Linked DNA regions of Homo sapiens: region 1 is reported to be linked to region 2. Evidence: microRNA targets listed by miRTarBase, many of them from high-throughput screens and not tested one by one. Region 2 holds a microRNA gene; the other region holds the end of a gene's coding sequence.

What was found. Region 2 holds the annotated microRNA hsa-miR-8089 (CCUGGGGACAGGGGAUUGGGGCAG, at 2,641-2,664, shown strand). A microRNA usually pairs through its seed, bases 2 to 8, with sites in the 3' UTR of a target mRNA and lowers its output. Matches are read on the target gene's strand: a 7mer-m8 pairs with bases 2 to 8, a 7mer-A1 pairs with bases 2 to 7 and ends in A, and an 8mer does both.
Region 1: the mRNA of CHD7 is a reported target of hsa-miR-8089. The part of its 3' UTR that is shown has no 7-base or 8-base seed match.

The regions. Positions count from the first base shown.
Region 1 is chr8:60,865,440-60,870,748 of GRCh38, reverse strand. It overlaps CHD7 (chromodomain helicase DNA binding protein 7), which reads right to left. Exons shown (of 38, transcript NM_017780.4): 38 at 2,721-5,309. The coding sequence ends at 4,816. Among named protein-coding and RNA genes, the nearest start is that of CHD7, 190 kb to the right of the region's middle.
Region 2 is chr5:181,040,702-181,046,076 of GRCh38, reverse strand. MIR8089 (microRNA 8089) reads left to right here and starts at 2,593; the gene lies at 2,593-2,674. It overlaps BTNL9 (butyrophilin like 9), which reads right to left. Exons shown (of 11, transcript NM_152547.5): 2 at 479-610. The coding sequence starts at 587. RefSeq lists a silencer at 1-195.

The sequences.
Region 1 (5,309 bases), not on the chromosome of region 2:
CTCCAGCCTGGGTGACAAAGTGAGACTCCATCTCAAAAAAAAAGAGTAAATCGTTCGGAAGGTAAAGATATTAGATGTCAAAATATTTCAAATTTTGTCACTAGCTTATTATTTAATTTCATTTAAATTACATAGTACACATTTGATTAAGGAGATCCAAATTAAAATTCAAATCTACATCTGTAGATCCAAAACAAGGTTTATAAACAAATAGACCTATTGGGAGGGTGGCGCTATGTTGCACTGCATAAAATAACTTAAATAGTCCAGAATACTTAGAAAACGATCATCCTAACCCTTACCAGAAAATCTTCAAATTAAGTGACTCCCCTACCAAAAATCTCAATAATGAAATGCTTAAGAGTCTTACATTAGGTAAAGTATTCCCGAAGGTAATTTATTCATCTATTTTGCCAAATATAGCTTATTTTACTATGTCTGTAAAACTGTGGTAAATCTTACCTGTGCTTAAGAAAATATAAAATTGCTCATTAGAGAGCCAAGTTGAATGAATAAGATGTATTCTTTTAAGTGCTTGTTAGTAGAAGTCATTTACATTGTTTTGCTTCCTAATTTAAATTTATTGATGGCCCTAGAGACACAGAGATGTTTGCTGTAACACACATTGCTTCAACAATGCTCACTCTCACCTCCTCTACCGGTCAGGATTAATGTCTAAAACTCTTCCCACAGACAATTAACAATTTTCATTGAACTAAAAAGAAAATTTTATAATGTACATGATGGAAAAATTTATTTTCCCAGTATCTTCTTCTAACACTAATCACAACATTCTTATTTAAAAAAATTAGCATGGTGAACATTCTTTATCTGTTAGTTTTTAGTAGTAGTCCTGAAGAATTAATACAAATTATTCACTGAAAAGTTCATTTAAATTGGAGGGTCTACCTCTTCAAAACATATCCCAAGTCCATCCATGGCTTTCCTTCTCCATTACTGCCCACTAAACTTGACCCAAGGTTGCTACAGCCATCTCCCAGCTAGAATTGCTGACTCCCCTTTACAAGGGAGTTTTTTGAACTGCAGACATAATGATCCTTTAAAAACATGAAAATGACCATTTTTCTGCATAAAACCTTCAGAAGACTTTCTACAGCACTCAGCATGAAACCCAAATCCTCCACCAGAGCCATCCAGGCCCTATGTAATCTGACCATGCCTCCCAACTTTTCAAGGCAGATGGCCTCTCCACTCCTTATTCCAAGCTCATTACCAGCTCAAGGTCTTTGCGTTTGTCATTCCTTTTGTCTGGACAATTCTCCAACTAGAATATAGTCTGCCTACTGCTTCTCATCACTCAGGTGTGAGCTGTCTCCTCCATAGAGAGCTTTTTCCTGGCCATCCTATCACCTTATTTAAGAGTCTTCCTTGCCCTGCAAACATTTTATTTGTATTCTATTATGCATCTCTTCGTACTAGGATGTAAGCTGCATGACAGCAGGGGACTAGTCTGTTTGCTTTCATTTCTATATTCCCAGCACAGCCTCTAGCACACAGCACCCAATGTTGCTGATGAATGTTAATTACACTAGCATAGTGGTTAGGAGCCTGGGCTTTGGAGTTACATCAATTGGGGTTCAAATACCAGGCTGGCAATTTACTCTCTCTGTAACTTATTTGGACAAATTCTTTTTAAAGACTTGATTTCTTTATAAAATAGAAATACTTGTGGGGCAAAATAAATCCAAATTTAAATGAGGTAGGTGGGATTCATTTCCTTAGCCAGAGCTAAGTCTCTAATTCAAGACTTTCTCTTAATTCCCAACCTCAAACTTAAGATGTTATGAAGGGGAATAAACAGCGAACTTTCAGTTATCCTTATGTCATAATTTTCTTTCAGAGACCTAAAAGCACAGTATTTTAGGAGCACATACACAGACTTCTGCAGTCAGACCACCTGAGTTCAAGTCCTGTTCCTGCACTTACTGCTGGGGATGATGCCAACTCCCGGGCCTCAGCCTCCTCAGGGAAGAACAGAACTTCCATCAGGGAGCAATGCCAGGAGAACCCTTGGCACCTCAGTGCTTCCTCCATGCTAGGCACACGATCATACCCATTAGTATCTGACTGAATTGAAAATACTTTACTCACGCCTGTAATCCCAGCATTTTGGGAGGCAGAGGCAGAGGCAGGTGGATCACAAGCATCAGGAGATCAAGACCATCCTGGCTAACACGATGAAACCCCGTCTCTACTAAAAATACAAAAAAAATTAGCTGGGCGTGGTGGCAGGCGCCTGTAGTCCCAGCTACTAAGGAAGCTGAGGCAGGAGAATGGCGTGAAAGTGGGAGGCGGGGCTTGCAGTGAGCTGAGATTGTGCCACTACACTCCAGCCTGGGAGACAGCGAGACTCCGTCTCAACAACAACAACAAAAAAAAAAAGAAAGAAAGAAAGAAAGAAAATAAAATACTTAGGTAGATTCAAGATCTACTACCAAGAATGAATTTCACTGGAAGAAAAAAAATGCATTTTTCAATATGAAAATGTGAATGACATTAAAGCCACGTCAACAGATGAGTACCGGATGATGCACATAACAAGCCAGTGAGCCCCAACAACTCAGGGGTCCTCTGGCCACGAGCAACTGATGGCTTTGCTTTGAAGATCATCATTGCTCTTAGAATTTTATCCTAACAGTGTCACATTATATTCTCTATTTACAGAGGCTCATAGGAAAATTTCCAATACTACAAAGAACTTTAAAAAAAACACCCTTTAATGACTCATTTTATTAAGCAAATTCTCCCTGCTAACATCTTTGTTACTTAAATACTTAAATTTCCTATACTTCATGCAGACCTAGTTTCACTTTCCCGTGTTCAAATAATTCCCTTTCAAAAAATATTCTCTTCAAGGCACTTTCCTCCAGTGTGCACGGCCCATTCACTTTCAGCAGACAACGACGATGATAAATAAAAGCAATCACAGGATCTGTAAGGTGGAGGGTTCAGGTTGTTTCTTTCCCAGAATCATTAAGGGGCATATTTTCATCTTGGGGCATAAACGAACTGAATCTCACAGTCTGGGAGGAATTTAGACCACCTGTCTGGCAGCACACTGGCTGGAGGTGGACTGTGTGCGGACGTCCTGGGGGAAGGGTGTGGAGGAAGGCAACACACACGAAACACTCTCGTCCACATCCCTTCCCCTGCTTTTTAACTGGATGGAAATATGGCTTTGTGTTGGTTCAGGTGACATAAAAAGGTGAAAACAGTAGATCTCAAATTATATTTTACTTTAAATACCAAAGGTCAAAAAGGGGTCCACAAATCAGTAGCTCCTGAGACCGTGCGTGCGCGCGTGCGTGCTTAAGTGGGTCTGTTTCAATTCCACATGGGTTTTTCCACACACTGGTTTCTGGCATCGAGCGCTGGTCTGCAGGACACCAGAGTGCCTTTGTGTCCCTTGCTGACACTACCGCATTGTGTTTTTCTACCCATTAACCAAGGATAAATGACCTAGATATTGTGCCTGTTAAAGCCTCATTTTTCTTTTGCCCTTTTGTTCTTCAGTGTACCACATTATCACACGCTGCACACATTTCTAAGTATTCTCGGTCTCAGATGCCCTTTTGAGGGAGTAATAGGAGCTTTTTGTATGCATTTCTGTTGAGATATCTGGAGTGGAATTATGTGAGAGTAATTCAAGGTTTTCCTTCCTGTCTAGTCTTCGAGACAGTTTAGTGTCTTACCAAAAGCTAATCTAGTATAAGAGGATATATCAAGAAACTGTACAAAAGCCAGAATGCTGTATTTGCATCTATTGCGAATACAAAAAAAATAGAGTGAACACCAGTTTCCCTATATACTACATTCTATAATTACATCTCTGCATATCATGGGTCACTTTTATTAAAAGCATCATTACTACAGTTGGCAGCAATTTACATTTTATCTTACATGATAGCAGTTTTCAAAGAAAAAAATAAAAGGACATCACAACAAAGAAAAACAATACATTTACAAAGTCATGTCTGTAAACTTCAAGGCTAGTTTAGAGCTGAGGTAATGCTGTTTTAGCTTTGTGGCTAAAGTAACAAAGTCCTTTAATTTAAAAAAGGTACCTGATTCTCTCTTCTCTCACTCTTTATTTATTCATCTATTTATTTTGTTTTTACCAGTGCATTACAAGACCACGAGACAATGGAACTGTAGTTCTGTCTGGCAAGAACCCTCCCAGTAGGTTAATTTTCCAAAGGGACCCTTCACATTCAACAGCTGCCTTATTATTGCTGCGCCTCGGGACAGAGGCGTTCACACTAGCGTGGAGATTGTCAGAGTGTATGGATGTGTGTGTATGCACGAGTGTGGGAACCCCCATACAGTCAAAAAGGGAAACAAATGAGCAAGTATGATATGTATGGTAAATTTCAGCTTGACCTTCACAGCAAAAAAATTAAAAATTAAAATTAAAAAATTAAATATATAACTTCATACTTCCTTTGAGCAGCACTTTCTTCCATTAGTGCCACTCAGTTACAAATTGCTCTTTATTATAATACCAATGGTACCAAGAGAAAAAAAAAAAGCAGAGCATTATGTAAGTTTCCTTAAAAAGACATGATCACCTCTCAAATTTCATCTCTCCTAGGGATAATAAATAATGCACTGCACAATACTTAATGACCAAGATACCTTTTGACACACCTGTATAACATGACTTGAACTTTTTTTTTTGCTACACTATGTTACAGAACAGCTTATAAAACTAGGTATGAACATTAACTGTGAGTGTAAACAGTAGGACTACCACTTGTCAAAAGTTTTAAACACTTGAACTGGAACTGGTACTGGTTATTCATCATTTTCATTGTTTTCTATTTCATCCCCCCCATCAAGTGAGTCTAGCTCTTCACCCTGTGCTATTTCGTCTTCTAAGAGGGAGGACTCTGCAGTCTTATCCAGGCTCTCCTCGGCATCGCTGCCTTCAAGGGTCTCTCCATCTTTAAAGGGTCCTCCCTCAGCCTTGTCAGCAGCCTTTTCTTCGCTGGAGCCCACGGCATTCTGAAGTCCTGCCAATGCTGGGAACCCAGGCAGCGTCAATCCCCCCAGTCCTGGAGGTAGAAACATGGATGGGTAGAAGAGGCCCGGGGCCATTGTGGACAGGAGGAAAGGGTTGAAGGCTAGCGGGTTTGAGGGCAATCCAGCCGGGGCAGTAGCAGCACCAACAGATCCATTCGCAGAGTCAGCAGCCGAAACAGCATCTGTGCTTTTCTCAGAGTCTTTGTTCTCGTCTTCATTCTCATTTCCTTTCTCCTCTCCTTTTGAAGTGCTGTCTTCCGGTTCTC
Region 2 (5,375 bases):
AGGTGTTGGGGGCTGGGGAGATGGTGGAGGAACACTACAGGCTGGGGAGATGGTGGAGGAGGTGTTGGGGGCTGGGGAGATGGTGGAGGAGGTGTTGGAGGCTGGGGAGATGGTGGAGGAGGTGTTGGAGGCTGGGGAGATGGTGGAGGAGGTGTTGGGGGCTGGGGAGATGGTGGAGGAGGTGTCGGGGGCTGGGGAGATGGTGGAGGAACACTACAGGCTGGGGAGATGGTGGAGGAGGTGTTGAGGGCTGGAGAGATGGTGGAGGAGGTGTCGGGGGCTGGGGAGATGGTGGAGGAACATCACTACAGGCTGGGTAATGCTCGGGGTAGTGGCTCTTTAACAACCAGGATGGAAGTCTTTTTTGTATTTTAGCGTCTGGCACGCCCTGGTACTGTGCTAAGATCGTAGCCCTGGGGAGCACCTGGCAGGAGGGGTGGCGTTCACATCCTGGCCAGCTAGGCTGCAGACACAATACCTGAGCTCGGCTCCCCAGGCTGAAGGAGGAGGAGGTGCATGAGGAAGACAAGACTGCTGGTCAGCGATACTGGCTTCAAGGAGTCTGGGGAGACTGAGAGGTCCACCATCTCTCGTCAGCAGTGGGGGCCACCTGGAGAGGGACAAAGGGGTGCTGGAGCGACGTGCAAAGGTAGGGGGAGCTGGAACTCACTCCATCAGACCTGAAGTCTGTTGTGGCCTCAGTTATTTTTGTCTAGTTCTCAAATTCCTTACAAGCCTCAGCGCTTGGCTTCTTCCATGGCCAGAGGGGAGAGCTGCTTCTAATTTTCCCAGGGGACACTGTTAATGGCATCCGTGGCCTTGCCCAGGTTCACAGAGCTGCAAGGGGACGAGGCTGAAGGATCCCAGAGGAAGCAGCTTCTGTGCTGCTTATTGTTTAGAGCCAGGAATAGAGCCACACAATGTGTGGGGGCTCAGCGCCCCCCCTTTTCTGGGCTTAGCGACTTTCCTCAAACAAAGGGCAATCTCTGAAGATCTCAGATGCATTTTCATTCTTCCTGCCTCACCACCACCAACCCAACCTTCGTCCCACTTCCCTTTGGTCTGGAACATCGAGTCCGCAAAACAGAGGAACAAACACAGAGTTCTGCTCTCTCAGAAGTGGAGTGCATGCAGGTGGCTGCCTGCCAGCCCCAACGACATCCTAGGACACTCTCCTCCAGGCCTGGGACCTCAAGTTGTGCCTTCAGGAGGCCAGCTGGTAACTGTCTCTGTGTCGATAGCATCTTCGGGGCTACAGTGATGGAGTCATCCCATCTAGCCACCCCTTCCTCATCTATGACCCAGGAGGCCCAGACCTGGCCCAGACAAGGGCTACCCCCTCACTCCTGATGCTCTGCTCCCTTGGGACCCACTAATGACTCACGGCCAGAGAGTGTGCTGCTGCCAATGAGTCTCTGGAGATACACAAAACTCTCCATATTTCTCTTGCATTTAGTTCTGCAAGATTTTAGGCAGATTCTGTCATTGGCTGGACCGAAATCTCTGCCTGAACCATGGAAGAAACCAATGCCCACTCCCATGGGTTGCTAGGAGCTCTTGAAATCAAAGTCAGCACCTCCCTTCCCCCTGCCTTCCCAACGCCCACGCACTGTCTTCGTCCTGGGACTGCACCCCTTGCCTTTCACTTCATCACAGTGCCCTTGTTGGAAGGCCACGGTGGGCTCCTCTCTCCAACCCTCTCTGTCTCCCCGTCGGCCCCCACGGCTTGGCTTTTCTTCCGAGACCTTGGCATGGCAGGTGTTTCCGGTGTCCTGTGGCCACAGGGCACTGGCCACACTGTCAGCAACACCATCAGCAGGTGTGAAGGAAGGACTTTCAAAGCTGCTGGGCCATGCAGAGGCAGAAGGATCAGAGGAGGTGTGCAGGGTGAGTTAATGAGGTGGTAGAGGCTCCCCAGGGACCCTTAGGCTAGGAGGCACCCAGACAGGCAGGAATACAAGGGAAGAGGGGTGGCCTGTGAGGCGCATGGGCTGATGGCCCTGTCTCCTAGAGCTAAAATTGAGGGGACAAACAGAGGACAGGTTGGGACAGCTCCAGGTGTGTTTCAAGAAGGTTCAAGGACAGGAGGTGGGGTCCCCCCGAAGCGGGGCCGTGTTGACACCTCTCAGTTATTGGAACACGATTCACACAATAACCAGCATGGGCAGAGGCCTCGGGCAGGGTCCAGGCCCTGGCTGGACAGTCCAGACTCTCACCCTCTGTGGCTACTGGTGGAAGCCTCTCTGCGACAGGTGGGGAAGCTGGCAAGGAAGGGTTCCAGCAAAGGGGTCTACACTGGTTGTGCACCTTCTCACCCTCTCTTCTGTTCCCTTCTCTTTTCCTTTATACTTCAGTCTTTTCTTCTGGATTCTAGACACAGGTTAGAGCTCCATGACAGCAAAACCAGGAGGGGCACGTCAGTGTTCAGCTAGTAACTTCCAAAACCAAGAGGGGCTCAGGGTGTGTTTATGCATCCATTCAGATGGGTTGGGTTCTGGGGAATTAGTCGAGGTTGTGTTAGGTTGTGACACAGGTCTGCTCATAAGGTGGTAATGGGGCGCGAGACAGGTCCCACAGCTGGCCTTCTCACAGAAGGAGCACTCACTCCAATTTCCCTGGACTGGGGGCAGGCTGCCACCTCCTGGGGACAGGGGATTGGGGCAGGATGTTCCAGAACCGTGGAAGTGCTAGAGGGACCTCAGTTCTCTGTTGTGATACACCCGTGTGATTCCCATCATGGAATCTTCAGGGGAGGAGGATTGTAGACACACACACACACACACAGACACACACACATGCACACACACACAGACACACCCATGCACACACACACAGACACACACATAGACACACACACAGATGCACACACACAGACACATACACACACACACACGTGCTGACAGTAATAAAACTAACATGCATTGGGTACTTCCTATCTATCAAACACTTATCTATACCTCAGTATTATTATTTTTATTATTATTATTACTAATAGGTCCAAATTATAGATAAGGAAACGGAGGCCCAGGAGCTGAGTGACTTGCTCCTGCACACAGTGGGTGAGTGGTGGGGTGGGGTTCCACCCACTGTCTGGTTCCAGAGCCTCGCTCTGCACTTCTCGAATTCAGATTCCTCACCAGCTACGTCGTGTGTCTGGGTACACCCTTCCGTCACTCCTGTTACCCAAAACCATGACCGTCTCAGGAACCAGCTGGCCACAGACCAAACACTCACCCTAACCTGCCATCACACAGAGGCACTGAAGAAGCGACCGGCTCACACGGTGCCAGCCACAAAACCAGCCAACCAGCCAACTAATGAATACAAAATTTAAAATCCCGCTGCCAGATAAAACAACTTAAAGCTGAGGTCTCCCTAAGACTTTGTCAAGAGCATCTTCTGAGCCAGGAGGAACAGGTACCTGGTCCCTTTGCTCCCAACACTCAAGGGTATCATCTTGAAAGCCTTTAGCAGAGAGAGATGGTCTGGCAGCTTCCTGAAGGGAAAAGTCAGCGGCTCCTGGACAGCACCCTCCTCCCCGTTTGCTGCTGTGCGTCCGCCCTTTCTGACCTCACTCTTCAGTTAAGGATCCAGGGTGCTCAATCCTTACTTGAAGCGTAAGTCCCCTCCTCGAAGGAAACACTTTCCACCCTCTGCTATTTTGATTACAGTGTAAATTGATTTCAGGTTGTTCCTGGTGAGGAGGTTTTGCCTGGGGAAGGAGTAAGGGACTGGACGCGTCGGATATTTGGGGAAGAAGGAAAACCCAGTGTGCGCAAGGACCACAAAGGGGTCCTCCAGCTGGAGCTGAGCTCTGCCGGCGGGCACGTGCTGCTTGTCCTCCCAGGAGCCTTGGGCTGCTCCCTCCGGAAGGCACAGGGAGAAATAAGGGGTCCTGAGAAATGTCACTGCCTGCACCCAGCAAAAGCCCATTTCTTTCTTCTCCTTCTCTTTTTATTTTTCTTTTCTTCTTGCTCTCTCATTGCCCCCAGCCCGCCCCACTCCTGTTCTCTCCTCCTGCACCTGCAATTCCTAAACAACCCTGATGTTTTTCTGATTTCCGGTCCCTCCGTCGAGTCTGTCTTTAAAGATGAGTACTTTTTGCTTTGCTACTGTTATTTTTTTAGATAATTTATTGTTAAATAAAGAATTTTAAAGCAAAATGCAGTGGGACAGATGTCAAAGGCAAGTTGAAAACATAATTTCTGTCAAATACTATTCTGGATTTCCTAAGGTTAGGCACAAGAAAAGCATCAAATGAAAAGGTACTTACTCAAACTAAGTCTTTTTAAAAAGTCTGTATTTGAAAGGAAAACAACTTTTCACTAAAAATATAAATCATTCTTATTACAGGAAAACCATAATTTAAGAGACTGAGAAAAGTTTTTGATTCACAAATAAATGGCATCTCCCTAATACACTTAGGACTGTTTGTTTTTAATCAGTGACTCTTAAAAATCACTGCTTCCACCTGACAAACTCAGGCGAATCACTATGGATTGGTGTCCTCTGAGCCACCCTGAAGCATCCCATTTTCTCTACACATGTCCTTTTCTCCAACTTTCAGCAAAGCAAGAATGGAGAAAAAGAGGATTAGAAGGAACTTCAGTTGGTTCCCTGGTGAATAACTTAACAAAATAAAACCTGCTTTTCCATTTGTATTACACATTCACAATCTCTCACTCTTACTTACTCTATTGGTGAATTTCAGATTCTGTCCACACATATAATTATTTGCCTGAACTTAACACTATCTTCCTGACAAATAGTAAATCTCCCAAGGACATCTCCGAACCTGGCAGTGTCCACAGGCCACGTCCTCCCACAGGAGTCCCTCGCCTGCTATGCAGCTGTTGGCGTCCTGAGCGATCCCAGTGTTTCCATGGGGGCAGAGCAAAACCTTGGGGATTCTCTAACATAATTTTAAGACTACATTTCACACTTAAATGACCACGTTATGAAACCTGGCAGGAAAATCCATGTTATTAATAAATGCCATGTCTCTTGCTCTCCCAAACACAGGAAGTATTTTTTGCTCTGCATATGTCTGCGGAGACTGTGGGGTCCCAGAGTGGAAAACTTCTCTAGTAACAAAGTACAGAAATTATCCCTGAAGTATAGTCTTTGCTTTGCTACTTCTGTAAGCTGTGTAACTGGTGAATTTTGCCTGTCTCCTGTCCTCCACTCCCCAAGCTGCAAGTCCGCAGGTGTCAGTGGGGCCTTGGCCCTCTCCCACGGGCCTCCCCGACACCCCCTGCAATGCCCTTCCCCCCGGCAGACCCCAGCTAGTGCTCACTGCCTGCGCTGGTTTGATTTCGATAGGTCCACAAGAGGATTTCCACCCTCTTAGTCTCTAAGGAAGATGGACTGCCCCA